Linked DNA regions of Homo sapiens: region 2 is linked to region 1. Evidence: fine-mapped expression QTL. A gene starts in region 1. The other region holds a variant in brackets. All regions are shown on one strand. Distances are from middle to middle.

Region 1 (8,333 bases):
TATTAATTCTAACATTTCGTGGGTATGTATGTGTGGGTAGTCCTTAAGGGTTTTTTTGGTAGAATTTTCTACATATATGTTATCTGCGAATAGAATCAATCTCTTTAATAGGTGTGAAATTATTCAGATTTTGTATTTCTGTGTCATTTTTGGTAAACTGGATTTTTCAAGGAAGTAGTCTATTTTGTCCACACGTCAAATTCATTTGCAAAAATTGATCATAGGATCTTCTTTCTTTCTTTCTTTTTTTGAGACGGAGTTTCGCTCTTGTTGCTCAGGCTGGAGTGCAGTGGCGCGATCTTGGCTCACGGCAACCTCCGCCTCCCGGGTTCAAGACCGTCTCCTGCCTCAGCCTCCCGAGTAGCTGGGATTACAGGCGTGCGCCACCACGCCCAGCTGATTTTTTGTATTTTTAGTAGAGGCAGGGTTTCTCCATGTTGGTCAAGCCGATCTCAAACTCCCGACCTCTGGTGATCCACCCGCCTCGGCCTCCCAAAGTGCTGGGATGACAGGCGTGAGCCACCGCGCCTGGCCGGATCTTATTGTTTTTAATACCTTCAGGATCTCTAGTGATGTTTCTTTTTTCATTAAAAAATTTGTTTAAAAATATTTTTAAATCTTCTTGCATCTGACCTTTTTCATTTTAACTTTGATTGTTCTTCCTTTCATTTGTTGGTCTTGAATGCTTAACAATTTTAAATTTTTTAAAATATATCCCCTTTGCCTTTGATTTCTTTATTGTACATTTATTTTCTACTTCCTTGATTTCTTCCCTTAGGATTTATTTCCTTTTACTTACTTTGGGTTTTGCTTATTATTCTTTTTCTAGTTTCATGAGATGGAAGCTTAATTGATTTTCAGTCTTCTTTTAAAAACATACGTACTTGGCCCACGCCTGTAATCCCAGCACTTTGGGAGGCCGAGGCGGGCGGATCACGAGGTCAGGAGATCGAGACCATCGTGGCTAACACGGTGAAACCCCGTCTCTACTAAAAAAAAAAAAAAAAAAAAGAATACAAAAAATTAGTCGGGCGTAGTGGCGGGCGCCTGTAGTCCCAGCTACTCGGGAGGCTGAGGCAGGAGAATGGCGTGAACCCGGGAGGCAGAGCTTGCAGTGAGCCGAGATCACACCACTGCACTCCAGCCTGGGCCACAGAGCCAGACTCCGTCTCAAAAACAAAACAAAACAAAAAAAAACACATATGTACTTTAGACTGTAATTTTTTTATTAAAAACAGCTTTAGCTGTATCCTACCAGTTTTGCTATGCCATATCTTTATTCTCATTCAGTTAGAAAATACTTTCTCATATTGTGATTTCTTCACGGATTCATGGGTTATTTAGCAGTGTACAATATCACTTAATCTCCATGCAACTTAATTCCACTATTGTCAGAAAAGTGTTCAGAATTATTTCAATCTTTTGAAATTGCTGGAGTTTACTTTATAATCCAGGGTACTGCCAGTTTTGGCAAATTCCTTACATTCTTTGTTCCAATATTGCTGCTGACTGTACGTACTGTCTCCAGAAGAAGAGGGCACATCCAAATTCTAAGGTCTAAGCTAGGAAGTGATACATATCACCTGCTCACATTCTACTGGCAAGAGTATATTCACATATCCACATTTAATGCTTACTGCTAGGGGCTTAATGCTAGGGTGGAGGCAAAGCTGAATTTTCGGAACAGATTCTCCCCCTATAAGACAGCAAGACAGTGGCAAGCTGTCCCACACAGATAGTGTTCCATCAGATTGGTCTGATTTGGACCAGTTTCCTACGTTTTACCAGTCGCTGTGGCAAAAGGGATAGAGAGTAATCCTGTTGGACCAAGCCTGGATATTCATTTCCTTTATCAATAACAGACACTGTTAATCCCACAAGAGCCACAAAAAATGGGTTCCAAGGGGGTCAGGCGCTGCGGCTCATGCCTGTAATCCCAGCACTTTGGGAGACCAAGGCGGGCAGATCACTTGAGGTCAGGAGTTGGGAGATCAGTCTGGCCAATATGGTGAAACCCTGTCTCTACCAAAAATATAAAAAGTAGCCAGGCATAGTGGCCTGTGCCTGTAGTCCCAGCTACTCAGGAGGGTGAGGCAGGAGAATCTCTTGAAACCCGGAGGTGGAAGTTGCCGTGAGCTGAGATCACGCCATTGCACTCCAGCCTGGGCGACAGTGCAAGACTCCCTAACAGACACACACACACACACACACACACACACACACACACGTTCCAAGGAGGAAAGATGAGTTACCTTACAAAGAAAAGGGAATAAGCTGGGTGTGGTGGCTCACGCCTGTAATCCCAACAGTTTGGGAGGCTGAGGTGGGAGGATGGCTTGAGTTGAGGAGTTCGAGACCAGCCTGGGCAATATGGTGAGACCCTGTCTCAAAAAAAAGTGGGGTGGGGAATAAGTAGTACCGTACAGAACCTACAGCTAAAAGAAACAAAAATGGTGCTCGCTACAAAAAGTGAGAAAAAGGAAAAAGGTAGCTTCTGGATTTGGAAATTCAAAGGTCACTGGTGTTCCTAATGAGATCCACGGTTGTGGAGTGGCAGAGAGAAGCCACCTGTGGCACAGGAGTCGTCAGTAGGAGTCGCAGGAGGAATTGATGCAGCATGGTGGGAGTGGACGTCACTTTCAAGGTGATCAGCCGTGAAGAGCGGCAAACACAGCGTCTTGGCTCGAGTTCCCCCAAACGGTGCCCCCTGGAACAAGAATTTGAGCACGAGTACAGTAGTTTTTTTGGGAGGTGATCCCAGGAAACATCGGTAGTCAGGGAAAGGAAGGAAGCCAACAGAAGATGCCCTGATGAGCAAGTTGCAGCTGTGGACAACCGCAGCCGTGGCCTACAGAGGACCACCGCAATACGCCTAGGACACACGCCTCCCCGCAGGGCACGTGCGGAGGGCGAGAGGGCCAGGGCATTCTCGACCAACTCTATCCCTCGTGGAGGGAGAGCAGCTGGGAAGGAGTGCAAGCACCCAGCACCTCTAAGTCTGCCCCATTTCTGCTCTGAGCGGGCTCTCCACAGCCAGCGGTTGCCTGCAGGTGGAGCCGGTGCGCAAGACAGGCGAGTGAGCGCCTGGCGGCCCCGTGGAATCTGGGCAACGATGGGAAGGAGAAGGGCGCTTTTACAATGTGCTCGGGTAGATACCGTGAGCATCGGGGGACAGGAAGGGGAGAGGCCCCAGGGTGTTCTTTATCTACAGGAGAGTAAAAGATGCAAGGCGCAGGGCTGATGTGGGTAATTTATGAGGGACTGTAGGAAGTTTGGGGGAGCTCTGATGATCATTGCCTTCTCTTTGTATCTCAAATGCAGCAGCACAGTCTTCAGAGTGGGCTATCAGAACCGAAGGGACTTTTAAGAGCCACTCTCCGCCGCTCATAAGGGGAAATCGAGGTCCGGAGAAGGGAAAGCAAGTGGCTGAATGCCGGTAAAAGGCAGGAAAAGAGCGGAGCCCAGGGCTCCAGGGGGTCGGTTTGGGACCTGCTTCCACCAGCAGAGTCTAAGGTCATCCCCTTGGCCGTGCGCCACCCTGGGCTCAGCCGAAGGAAGGAGCACTCGACACAAACAAAACCGACGCTCCGGGTCTCCGTAGTCGTTAAGCAAAGAGGAAGAGGAAGCGCTTCTTCATTAGGCCACAGGACCGGGCCTTAGAACTTTTGGGTTTTATCCATTAAAGGTCCTTTGGCAATAGAAGAAAAACCCAGATCGAGCCCTGCAAACTGGGATCTTCCGCCGGCACCGCCCCCCGGCTGCGACCCGGGGCTCGGAAAGAACCACCCCAGGCCCGGGCTCCGGTTCCACCGCACAGTCCGCCCGCTGCGGTAAAGCCGCGCCCACCGCCGCGGGTCTCCAACCCTGCGCCGCCGCCGCCCCCGGGGGAGGGTACGGAAAGGGCGCGGCGCCGCCGCCCACGGGCTCCTCCAGAGCGCGGCGGGGCCGGGCCGCGCGGAATCACGGGACAGAGGCGGGGCCGCGCCGGCGGGGGCGGGCGTGCGAGCGGCGCTTTCCTCTCCGGCACCCGGCGGGCGCCCGGGCGCGGCGCCGCCGGCACCCGAGAGGCGCGGTAGCCGGCGCGGGCGGCGGGGGCCGGGCCGCGGCGGGCGCCCGGGCGGGGTCCGCGCTGAGCCGCCTTCTCGGCCGCCTGGTCCCTGCGGCGGCTGCCCGGCGGCCCGGGCGCGCGGCGCTTCGCCATGTACACCTTCGTGGTACGCGATGAGAACAGCAGCGTCTACGCCGAGGTCTCCCGGCTGCTCCTCGCCACCGGCCACTGGAAGAGGCTGCGGCGAGACAACCCCAGATTCAACCTGATGCTGGGAGAGAGGAATCGGCTGCCCTTCGGGAGACTGGGTGAGCCCCTCCCCGATTCCCGTCTGCCCTCCTCGGAGCGGCCCTGCGCGCCTCCCGCGGCCCGTTAGAACCGGCGCTTTTGTTTTTAAAGGTCATACATTTTCTCCTCTGTCGCTTGTCGGGCACATCAGAAACGGATTCGGAAAGATCGAAACCTGTCGTTTTTAATGCTTTCTTGTCTCCTAACTTGGATTTAGAGTCGGAGTCGCGGTGCGGCCACTCGGGGCCGCAGCTACCTCCCGACGGTGACCGGTCCCTGCAGCCCGGGAGACGCTGGCCGCCGGGGCTGGGACCTGAGGCGCGAGTCTAGCGGCTCCCCCGGGCCGAAGCCCCCAGATTTGGCGGGTCCGCCGCGCTGGGCGCGGCTCCGCAGAGCGGGCGGCTGGAGTCATCTTTTGCAGCTCGTCTGCACTGAGGATTTCTCCCTGCTTGGCGTGGGCGCGGGCGGGGGAGCCGTAGGTGTTGAAACCCCTGAGGCTTCTGCCCCCCGAAGGCGCGGAGGAGCGATCAGAGGATTTGGAAAAGACCCCCGGATTCCAAAAGCAGGAGCTGCAGAAGAGACCCTAGCCCAGGGAAGTGTGGAGGGATGTCTGATTATAAACCTTTCCTTAGTTTCACCAAATAATGTGTTTTCGCAGTTCTGCATTGGATTAAGATCTTACACGAGGCTGCGTTCGCCCTCCCTGTCTTCCCTGCTCTCCCCGAGGGAATTACCTTCATCCACATGGTTGAAGCTGGCTGGGCACCACCATACCCACATGTCCACGGGTAGGAAAGCGCAGGAGATAGGAGGGGACTAGCGGCTCCTTTGTAAGTGATGTCATCCAGAAGTTGCCCAGATCGGTTCAACTCACATCCTATTGACCTGAGCATAGTCTCATGGCCTCCCTCTCTGCACAGTCATCTGGGAATTGCATCTTCTCTCCGGGGAGCCATGTTCCTTGCCAGAATTCACCAGAGGTGGGGGCCAATTGTATTCCAAAGACAAGGGGAGAATCGATACGGAGGAAGAGTCACCTCTACCTTGGAGGGCAACCCAGAGAGAGCAATGTTCTATGTCCAGGAGAGAAAACAGTTTTTAGAAATAGGTGTGGTCAGAATTCAAATGGGTAAAAACTGAATACGGGCCATTTGGAATTGACTGGTCATTTATGAGCTTCCATAGACAGAGCCTTTGGGAGGGGGCTGTGTAAAACTCAAATCGTTGGAGGAATGAAGAGCTGCAGTGTAAAGTTGCTGGATTTTCTTCTTTTGAATAGTACCTGGGACAACTTTTCATTGGTATACAAGTTTATGATGTAGAATGGTGACTCCATGGAAGGACCCATTTGAACACCCAGAAATCTTAGAATATGGAGACTGTGCCTGGAGGCTCCCTTTGGTTAACCGGTGTCAGGAAGACCCTAGCAAAGAGAATTCATGATCTGAAAGGAGAGGAAGAATTGCTTATAGTTGAGAACAATTATTTGTTCCTTGCATTGTCCACTTCCCCTTCCAGACTTCCTGACTTCCCTCTATATTCTTGGCAGTGCCTAGCTGTGAAAGCTTAGGTGGAATCATAACATTAAAAACAACAAACATGGCTCCGCCCAGGCAGAGGTAGGAGTGACTGGCATTACCCTGGTGCTTAAGCCTAGGAGTGAGAAGCAGAAGCCTCCAGAATTTGAATCCTGAACAGATACCACAAATTCAGGAGATGATCAGTAAACGTTTGAGCTTTTTGTTTGTATGTGTTTTTTTTTTTTTTTGTAGTTTTGTTTTTTGTTTGTCTGTTTGTTTTGCGACAGAGTCTCACTCTGTCGCCCAGGCTGGAGTGCAGTGGTGCAATTTTGGCTCACTGCAACCTCTCCCTCCTGGGTTCAAGCAATTCTCCTGCCTCAGCCTCCCAAGTAGCTGGGATTACAGGCGCGCATCACCATGCCCAGCTAATTTTTTGTATTTTTGGTAGAGACAAGGTTTTGCCGTGTTGGTCAGGCTGGTCTCGAACTCCTGACCTCAGGTGATCCGCCCACTTCGTCCTCCCAAAGTGCTGGGATTACAGGCATGAACCACCGTGCCCGGCCAACATTTGGTTTTTATGGGAAAGAAAACAGCATCCTACAACAAAATTGGTTATATGCCATCACTGTTAAGGGATATTTACCTTTTGCTTAAAGTGTACTACATGAAAGCCAAGGAGAAGATTTATAGAGCTAGGTAAAGGCTCAGGAAGGCAGGTGCCCTGTGGATAAGAATGTAGGCAGTTCAGGTGGGAATCAGGTCTGTCTGCTCAGGGAGACCAGTGAGAGCCAGCTAATGCCTGCCTGAAACTTTTGATTTGACTGTATGCCATTCTCAGAGAAATTATTCTTTCTTCTGGCATTTTCAACTGAAAATTCCTTTGGTCTTACTTTGATTTTGTTACTGGAAATACAGTGTGTTTTATTAAGATTTGAAACAAAACATTTTTTATTTTATTTTATTTTTGAGATGAAGTCTTGCTCTGTCGCCCAGGCTGGAGTGCAGTGGTGGGATCTTGGCTCACTGCAACCTCTGCCTCCCAGGTTCAAGTGATTCTCATGCCTCAGCCTCCCAAGTAGCTAGAATTACCGGTGTGCGCCACCACGCCCAGCTAGTTTTTGTGTTTTTAGTAGAGATGGGGTTTTGCCATGTTGGCCAAGCTGGTCTTGAACTCCTGATCTCAGGTGACTTACCCACCTCAGCCTCCCAGAGTGCTGGGATAACAGGCATGAGCCACTGTGTCTGGCTGAAAACACTTTTTATTTTTAATAAAAATTGTTTTTCTTTGTGTCCTTTCTGCTCTAATTCTATAAAAAAAAGCCACATGTAATAAGAGCTGTTGAAAATGAGTTTCCCCATGGAATGCGGCACAGAAGAAAGCTCTCAGGGCTTCTGATTTTGTAGACATGGCCTCTCCACTACCTTCCTTCACCTAGAAGCTTGCAGAGATAGACTTGCTTGAGACCAGCATCATTCTAGTTCTCCTTCCTTCCTTGGTATGGAAAGCCAGGTTACGGATGTGGAAAGCGTGACTGTTAAAGTAGCCTTATTGTACAGAGTGACAAGTCTATATGTGTTAAGCCAGGAGCGGAATGCAGTGTGCAGTCAGGGAGAGGTGAAATGAAAAAATACCCTCAATACCCTCTACCCTAACAAGAAAAAACAGACAAAGGTAGCAGCAGTTTTGGCAAACCTACGATGTTGATATAATATCCACTGTGGGGAGAATGAAGGTTGCCAGCGGAATACTGAGAGAAAGAGGGTCCCTGGGGACAGAGAAACAAAATTGTTCCATTTTCCATTTTCTAACAGCCAATCCTGAGATGAGAGAGAGAAAAGCTGGGCATGACACAGCTGTCCTCTCTCCTGCTTGCTGTGTCCTGTGTCCCTTCTGAGCCTCCTCTTTCCTTCCTAGGTCACGAGCCCGGGCTGGTACAGTTGGTGAATTACTACAGGGGTGCTGACAAACTGTGTCGCAAAGCTTCTTTAGTGAAGTAAGTGTTAAGACCGCTGTTTTCCATTTTTTACCTAAATGAAGCACTTAGGCAAAAATGTGGGGTTGTTTAAAGGACAAACATACTTTTATTTTAAAAGCCAACAAATATCAGTTCAGAAGCTTCCTCTAAGCCGCTTTGGTTGCGGTCCAAAACATGGTGCTTGATAAAGCCTGTCTGCCTCTGAGGTGAGGCTCCTAGAAGCAGAGCCTGACTCAGGGTCTCCTGTGTAAGTGATTTCCTGGGGTAGGATTCTTAAGAGACAGCCATCGGGAAGCAAGGACAGGGCAGGGCAGGGGGAGAACCAAGTAAAGAGGTGGTTTCAGCTGAAGTCTTGCCTCTCCTGACTCCAAGGAGCACCAGAGTGAATGGCACCTCAGAGTTGTCACATTTTGAGCAAGGACCAGGCCTCTATGCTCCAGTATCAGTCAGCCATTGGCTGTGGGAAGAGATGGAGGGCTTAGCTTCGCAGGCATTTCTGGG
Region 2 (8,333 bases), 56 kb after region 1:
ATTCCCACTCCCCCTTTCCCCAGCTCCACAACAGCCTCGGCCACACAATCATGCTGACATCCAGCAGCAGAGCAGCCACCGTAGGGCTCAGAAGGGGATTGGAACTCCTCCAAAGCTTCATTACCAGAGAATTGCCATTTGGCCTTTTTGGTAGTTCCATGTAAGTCCCTACTCCTAGGTCTTGTCTTTATTTGATGTGACTAAGAGGTTACCCAGTGTGAACAACCTTTTCCCTGGGTGCATTTGTCAAAAAAAATCAACAGCAATTGTTGAACATCTCAGCTTCCTAAGGTGGCTGTAACAGTTGGAACAAACAAACTGACCAAAAGACTTAGAAGGAAAAACTGGGAATGAGATTTCTATAGGACGTTTTGAAAAGCTTCAACCTATTCCTAAGAATGCAGAAGGCCACACACATGTGTAGGACTGTGCACATGCCCAGAAGAGACCTGAGAATTCCCCAGCTCTTTCGTCTGACCTTAAGTGTCTGCACAAACAGAGAGGACAGAGGCAGAAGGAGGGAAAGAGGGAGGGAGGAAAGGTAGGAAGGGGAGAAAGAGAGAGGAAGAAAGAGAAAGGAAAGAAAGGCAGGCAGAAAGAAGGAGAAAGGGAGGGAGGGAGGGAAAGGAGGGAGGGAAGAAAAGAGAAAGATTGAGAAAGAAAAAAGAGAAAGAAGAAAGAAAAGAAAAAAGGAAAGAAAGTTAGTTTATAAAATAGAACCAAGTAGAAATTTTAGAGTTGCAAAGTACAAAAATGCAAATGAAAGATTTACTTGAGAAGTTTAAAAAATGTGTGAACTGGTAAAAGAAGTAATCAGCAAATTAGAAGTCATTTGAGATTATCCAGTCTGTGGAACAGAAAAAAAAAATCAGCAAAGAAAAATGATCAGTGCTTCAGACACCCGTCAGACACCATCAAACATACCAACATACACATAATAGGAGTCCTAGAATAGATAAGTGAGAGAGAGGGAAGGGGATAAAACATATACTGGAAGAAATAGTGGCCAAAACCTTTCCCACTTTGAGGAAAAACATTAAAGTGAATCCAAGAAGCTCAACAAATTCTAAGCAGGAAAGACTCAAAGAGTCCACCTCAAGACACACCAGCCACTAAGTAAATAATTTTAAATATATAGTAAAAAATGACAAGGAAACAGAAATGTTACACTAGAAAATATATAAGAAAAGAGAAGGAAGTAATGAAAAATAGAGGAGAAAAAAAAGGCAAGAGGCCTAAAGAAACCAACAGTAAAATGGTAGATAAATCCTGCCTTATCAGTAATTTCATTAAATGCAAATGAATTAAATACTCCAATCAGAAGGTAGAGATTGGCAAATTGATTTTTTTTAAAAATCATGATCCAACTATATGCTATCTACAAAAAACACACTTCATTTTATTTTTATTTTTATTATTTAGAGACAGAGTCTTGCTCTGTTGCCTAGGTTGGAGTCTAGTGGTGTAATGATAGCTCACTGCAGCCTCAAACTTCTGGTTTCAAGTAATCTTCCCACCTTAGCCACCCAAGTAGCTGGAACTATAGGTGCCTGCCACCATACTTGGCTAATTTAAAACAATTTTTTTAGAGATAGGACCTGGCTTACTTCAAAACTTACCTGGCTAATTTCACTTCACATAACGATCTTCAGTTCCATCCATGTTGTTGGAAGTGACAGGATCTCACTCTTTATGGCTGAACAGTACTCCATTGTGTATAAGCAATATATTTTCTTTATCCATTCATCTGCTGATGGACACTTAGGTCGCTTCCAAATCTTGGCTATTGCAAACAAGGCTGCAGTAAACATGGGAGTGCAGATATCTCTCCAAAAAAAATTTTTTTTTTTTTAGAGATAGGGTCGTACTGTGTTTCCCAAGCTGGTCTTGAACTCCCGTCCTCAGGCAATCCTCCTGCCTCAGTCTCCCCTAAGCAGCTGGGATTACAGGCATCAGCCAATGCACCTGGCAAAACACACTTTAGATTCAAAAACACAAACAGGTTGAAAGTAAAATGATGGAAAAAGATATACCATGCAAACAGTAACTCAAAGAGAAGTGGAGTAGCTATACTAATGTTAGACAACATAAACTTTAAGAAAAAAATTGTTTCTATAGACAAAGAAGGACTTTTTTTTAATAGTTCCAACTTTTATTTTAAATTCTGGAGGTACATACACAGGTTTGTTACATGGGTCCTGAGGTTGGGGTACAGATCCCATTACCCAAGTAGTAAGCATAGTACCTAATGGTTAGCTTTCCAATCCTTGCACCCCTCCCTCCCTTCTCCCTCTTGTCATCTTTAGTGTCTCTTGTTGCCATTTTTGTGTCCATGTGTATCTAATGTTTGGCTCCCACTTATGAGACTGTGCAATATTTGGTTTTCTGTTCCTGTGTTATTTCACTTAGGATAATGGCCTCCAGCAGCATCCATGTTACTGCAAAGGACATGATTTCATTCTTTTTTATGGCTGCATAGTATTCCATGGTATATATGTACTATATTTTCTTTATCCAATCCACTGTTGATGGGCACCTAGGTTGATTCCATGTCTTTGCTCTTGTGAATAGCACTGTGATAAACATATAGGTGCATGTGTCTTTCTGGTAGAATGAATTGTTTTCTTTTGGATATATACCCAGTAATGGGAGGCTATGTTGAATGGTAGCTCTGTTTTTGTTTGTTTGTTTGTTTGTTTGGTGGAGTCTCTCTCTGTCACCCAGGCTGGAGTGCAGTGGTGTGATCTGTGCTCACTGCAACCTCCGCCTCCTGGGTTTAAGCGATTCTCCTGCCTCAGCCTCCCAAGTAGCTGGGACTACAGGCGTGTGCCGCCATGCCCAGCTAATTTCTGTATTTTTAGCAGAGACAGGGTTTCACCATGTTGGCTAGGCTGGTCTTGAACTCCTGACCTCAGGTGATCGACCTGCCTCAGCCTCCCAAAGTGCTGGGATTACAGGCATGAGCCACCATGCCCAGCTGCTCTGTTTTAAATTCTTTGAGAAATCTCCAAACTTCTTTCCACAGTGGTTCAACCAATTTACATTCCTGCCAGCAGTGTATAAGCATTCTCTTTTTTTCCTTAGCCTCTTCAGCATCTGTTATTTTTTGACTTTTTAATATAGCTATTCTGACTGGCGTGAGATGATATCTTATTGTGGTTGTGATTTCCATTTCTCTGTTGATTAGTGATGATGAACATTGTCTCATATGTTTCTTGGCCACTTGTATGCCAAGGACATTTTATATTGATAAAAGGGTCAGTCCATTAGGAAAATATGACAATTATAAACATATGTACCTAGCAATACAGCCTAAAGATACATGACATAAAAACTTAGAGAATTGAAGGAAGAAACAGACAATTTAACTACAATAGTTGGAACCCTCAAAACTCCATTTCAATAATAGCTAGAGCAACTAGGCAGAAGATCAACAAGAAAATAGAAAACACTATAAACCAACTAGACTTGACAAATATCTACAAGGCACTCCACCCAACAGCAGCAAAATACACATCCTTCTCAAGTGCACATGGAACATTCTCTGGGGTAGATCACATGCTAGGCCATAAAACAAGTCTCAGTAAATTTAAAAGAATTGAAATTATACTACATATGTTCTCTGACCATGTTGGAATAAAATCAGAAATCAGTAACAAATTTTGTTAATTTCTGTATTAATGAAGAAATATACAAGTAAAGAGGTTGGACTAATAATAATTCTTTTAAAACTTCCCACAGGGAAAAGCCCAGGACCAGATTGTAAGCCAGATGGTAAGGAATTAACACCAATATTTCATAGAGTCTCCTAAAAAATAGAAGAGAAGAAAATACTCCTCAATTGAGAAGAGTGTCCTCAACTTTATGAGGTCACTCTTAATACCCTGATACCAAAACCAGACAAAGATGTCACAAGAAAAGCAAATAGCAGACCAATAATCTCTTGGGAATACAAACGGAAAAAATCTTCAACAAAATACTAGTAAACCAAATCCAGCAACATAGAAAAAGGATTATACATTATGACTAAGTGGGACTTATCCTAAGATTACAAAGTTTGGAATAACTCATGTTCTCTTGTAAGTGGAAGCTAGGCTGAGCACGGTGGCTCACTCCTATAATCTCAGCACTTTTAGGAGGCCAAGGTGGGCAGATCAAATGAGGCCAGGAGTTTGAGTCCAGCCTGGGCAACATGATTAAATCTGGTCTCTATAAAAAATACAAGAATTAGCCAGGCATGGTGGTGCATGCCTGTAATCCCAGCTACTCTGATGGCTGAGGCACAAGAATCGCTTGAACCTGAGAAGAGGAGGTTGCAGTGAGCAGAGATCGCACAACTGCTCTCTGTCCTAGGTGACAGAGCAAGTCCTGTCTCAAAAAAATTAAAAAGTGGGAGCTAAACATTGGGTACACATGGACATAAAGTTGGGAAGAGGCCAGTCGCGGTGGCTCACGCCTGTCATCCCAGCACTTTGGGAGGCCAAGGCGGGCGGATCATGAGGTCCGGAGATCAAGACCATCCTGGCTAATATGGTGAAACCCCGTCTCCACTAAAAATACAAAAAATTAGCCGGGCGTGGTAGCAGGCGCCTGTAATCCCAGCTACTCAGGAGGCTGAAGCAGGGGAATCACTTGAACCTGGAAGGCGGAGGTTGCAGTGAGCCGAGATTGCGCCACTGCACTCCAGCCTGGGTGACAGAGACTCTGTCTAAAAAAAAAAAAAAAAAAAAAAAAGATGGGAACAGCAGACACTGGGGACTACTAGAGCCAGGAGAGAAGGAGGGGAGCAAAGATTGAAAACTACCTATTGGATACTGTGCTCGCTACCTGGGTGACAGGTTCAACCATACCCCAGACCTCAGCATCACCCAATATACCTTTGTAACAAATT[C/T]GCACATGTACCCCCCTGATTCTAAAATAAACGTTGAGAAGGGGAAAAGAAAGAATGCAAGGTTTTTTTAACATACAAAATTTACTTAATATAATATACCACTTTAATAGAAAAAAGAGGACAAAAAGCACATGATCATTTCAATATACACTGAAAAAGCATTTGGCAATACACAACACTCTTTCTTGGAAAAAACCTTTCAACAAACTAGAAATAAATTACTTCCTCAACATGATAAAGAGCATCTTTGGAAAAACCCACAGCCTACATCATATTAATGGTGATGTGAAAGCTCCAGTTGGGAGCTTTCTTCCCAATATCAGGCACAAAACAAGTATATTTATTCTTGTCACTTCAACATTGTATTAAATGTTCTAGACAGAGCAATTCGACAAAAGGAAGGAAAGAAGACTGCGCATTCAGATTGGAAAGGGAGAAGTATGATGATCTCTCTTTGCAGACGACAAGATACCATATAGAAAAAGTCCTAAGAAATCCACTTACGCTGTTAGAACTAATAAAGAGTTTAGCAAGATTGCCAGACACAAGATCAATATACAAAACTCAATGGTATTTCTACATATTACAAACAATTTGAAGTTAAGAAAACAATTCCATTTATATCAACACCAAAAAGAATGAAATACTTAGGAATAAATTTAACAAAAGTTCATTTCTACACCAAATACTACAAAACATCTCTGAAAGAAATTAAAGAACACCTAAATAAATGGAAAGACATCCCATGTTTATGGATTGGGAGATAATTATTGTTAGGATGAAAATAGGCCCCAAATTGATCTACCAATTGAACACAATCCTGATCAAGAATCTCAGCCTTCTTTGCAGAAATTGACAAGCTGGGCCGGGTGTGGTGGCTCACACCTGTAATCCCAGCACTTTGGGCGGCCAAGGCAGATGGATTACTTGAGGTCAGGAATTCAAGACCAGCTTGGCCAACATGGTAAAACCCTGTCTCTATTAAAAATACAAAATTAGCCAGGCATGGTGGTGCATGCCTGTAATCTCAGCTATTTGGGAGGCTGAGGCAGGAGGTAGAGGTTGCAGTGAGCCAAGATCATGCCACTGCACTCCATCCTCAGCAACAAGAGCAAAACTCTGTCTCAAAAAAACAAAAAACAAAAAAAAAAAAAAAAGAGAAAGAAATTGACAAGCTAAGCTGACGCTAAAATCCATATTGAAATACAAAGGATCAAATAAATCTGGAGAAAGAAGAACAAAGTTGGAGGATGTGCACTTCCTGATTTCAAAATTTATTACAAAGCTGTATTAATCAAATCTGTGTAGTTTGTAGACAGATATACAGATAAATGTAGATAGACATACAGATCAAGAGAATAGAACTGAGAGTCAAAAATAAACCCTTGCATCTATAGTGAACTGATTTTCGACAAGGAGGCCAAGACAATTTGATGAGGGAAAGAATAGTCTTTTTAACAAATGGTGTTAGGACAACTGGATATCCACATGCAAAGGAATAAAGTGATATGCCTTTCTCACACCATATACAAAAATTAGCTCAGAATGAGTCAAAGACTTAAATGTAAGAGTTGAAACTACAAAACTCTTAGTAGAAAATATAGGTGAAAATCCCCATGATTGAAAAATATCTAGTATTTGATAGCACAACAGGGTGACTGCAGTCAGCAATAATTTGTTGTACCTTCAAAAATAACTGAGGAAGTACAATTGGAATGTTCATGACAGAAATGATGAATGCTTGAGGTGATGGAAACCCCATCTACCCTCCTGTGATGATTACATCGTATGCCTATATGAAAACATCTCATATACCTCATAAATATGCTAATTATGTACCCATAAATTTTTTTTTAAATCCTCATGACCTTGGATTACACAATGATGTCTTAGATATGATATAAAAAGACAGGCAACAAAAGAAAAAAACTACACTTCAAAATTAAAACGTTTTGCTTCAAAGGACACCAGCAAGAAAGTAAAAACCCACAGAATGGGAGAAAAATATTTGCAAATCATGGATCTGACAAGGACTAGTATAGGCTATATAAAGAACTACAACTACTCAGTTGGCCGGGCGCGCGCGGTGGCTCATGCCTGTAATCCCAGCATTTAGGGAGGCAAGGCGAGAGGATCACTAGAGGCCGGAAGTTCAAGACCAGCCTGTGCAACAGACTCCCGGCTCGAATTTTTTATAAAAAGTGATATAGGAATGAAAAGTACCAGCTGAACTAGGAAAGGGGAAGTTGACAGTAAGGAGGGACTATCAGGGGCAGGAGGATACTGGGTAGTGGTGGTTTAATTCATTGTTTTAATTGTGGTGATGGCTGCATGGTTGTATACATAGGTCAAAACTTAACGCGTACACTTTAAATGTGTGGTTTATTGTATGCCAGTTATAACGCAATATAGCTGTTAAACACAAACACAATAAAGTTGAAAAACCAGCAGGCATTCCCTGATTAATCAGTATTCTGGGGAGGTAAGGGGCTCACAGGAACGCAAAAGAAATTCAGGCTGTAAATCCAGTTGGACGCCCCGCTGCCCCATCCCCTCCATCCGGGACCGCCCGACTCCTCTCCCACCTCCTTCCCCAGGCCTCCCCCAGGCCTCCAGTCCGGAAGATGCGACGAGGTTAGCGGGGCCCGACCACTCCTTGGCTTCCCAGGGGTGAGCCTCGCGAGTTAGGAGTTGGGTAGAGAGTCAGCCCGGGGCCCGGCATCCGCTTTTTCGTTGAAGCAACGACTTTGGCCGGATGACTCCCCAGGGTCGGCATCAGCGTGGGACTGGGAACAGGTGAAGGGAAACAGAAGAGAGCCTGAGAAGACCGCTCTCCTCCGATCCTAATTGACTGAGCCAATGAGAGCCAAAGAGGTCACATGCTCAACTGGGCGGGGAGCGGGTTTCCACCTGCGGCATCTTTCGCGAGCGGGGAGATGAGTGGGGCGGAATATGGGAGAAAGGGAGGGCCCGCCACGCTCTGGCTGGACACGGCCTTAATCGGCCCGTTCACTCGACGTTTTTGGTTCTACGTTGACCCCGAGAAACCGAAACCGCAGGGCCTAGGGCGGGTGGAACGAGAGGGAACTACATTTCCCAGCAGGCTGCGGAAACGGGACTGCGGCCACTACTTCCGGCGTGTACCGAGAGACTGGCGTCCGGCGTGTACCGAGAGACTGGCGTCCGGTGTGCAGGTGGCCACATGGATCCTGGCAGCCGGTGGCGGAACCTGCCCAGCGGGCCTAGCCTAAAGCACTTGACTGACCCCTCTTATGGAATCCCGCGGGAACAGCAAAAGGCAGCGTTGCAGGAGCTGACGCGGGCGCACGTGGAGTCCTTCAACTACGCTGTGCACGAGGGTCTCGGCCTCGCGGTGCAGGTGAGCGCGGCGTCCGCCGGCGCCCTTGCCGCGGCGAGGCCAATCCCAGGGAGGTGGCTGGGA

The links.
Region 2: its variant is fine-mapped to the expression of TTL in blood mononuclear cells (TOPMed, PIP 0.98).

The regions. Positions count from the first base shown.
Region 1 is chr2:112,478,146-112,486,478 of GRCh38, forward strand. TTL (tubulin tyrosine ligase) reads left to right here and starts at 4,011. Exons shown (of 7, transcript NM_153712.5): 1 at 4,011-4,356; 2 at 7,772-7,850. The coding sequence starts at 4,200. RefSeq lists an enhancer at 3,342-3,411 and silencers at 3,732-4,121, 4,682-4,781.
Region 2 is chr2:112,534,402-112,542,734 of GRCh38, forward strand. It overlaps TTL (tubulin tyrosine ligase), which reads left to right. Exons shown (of 7, transcript NM_153712.5): 7 at 1-7,338. It overlaps POLR1B (RNA polymerase I subunit B), which reads left to right and starts at 8,064. Exons shown (of 15, transcript NM_019014.6): 1 at 8,064-8,270. The coding sequence starts at 8,094. LOC105373562 (a long non-coding RNA gene) reads right to left here and starts at 7,811. Exons shown (of 2, transcript NR_136321.1): 1 at 7,802-7,811; 2 at 7,255-7,677. RefSeq lists an enhancer at 7,947-8,096. The variant C/T (reference allele first, on the strand shown) is at 4,892.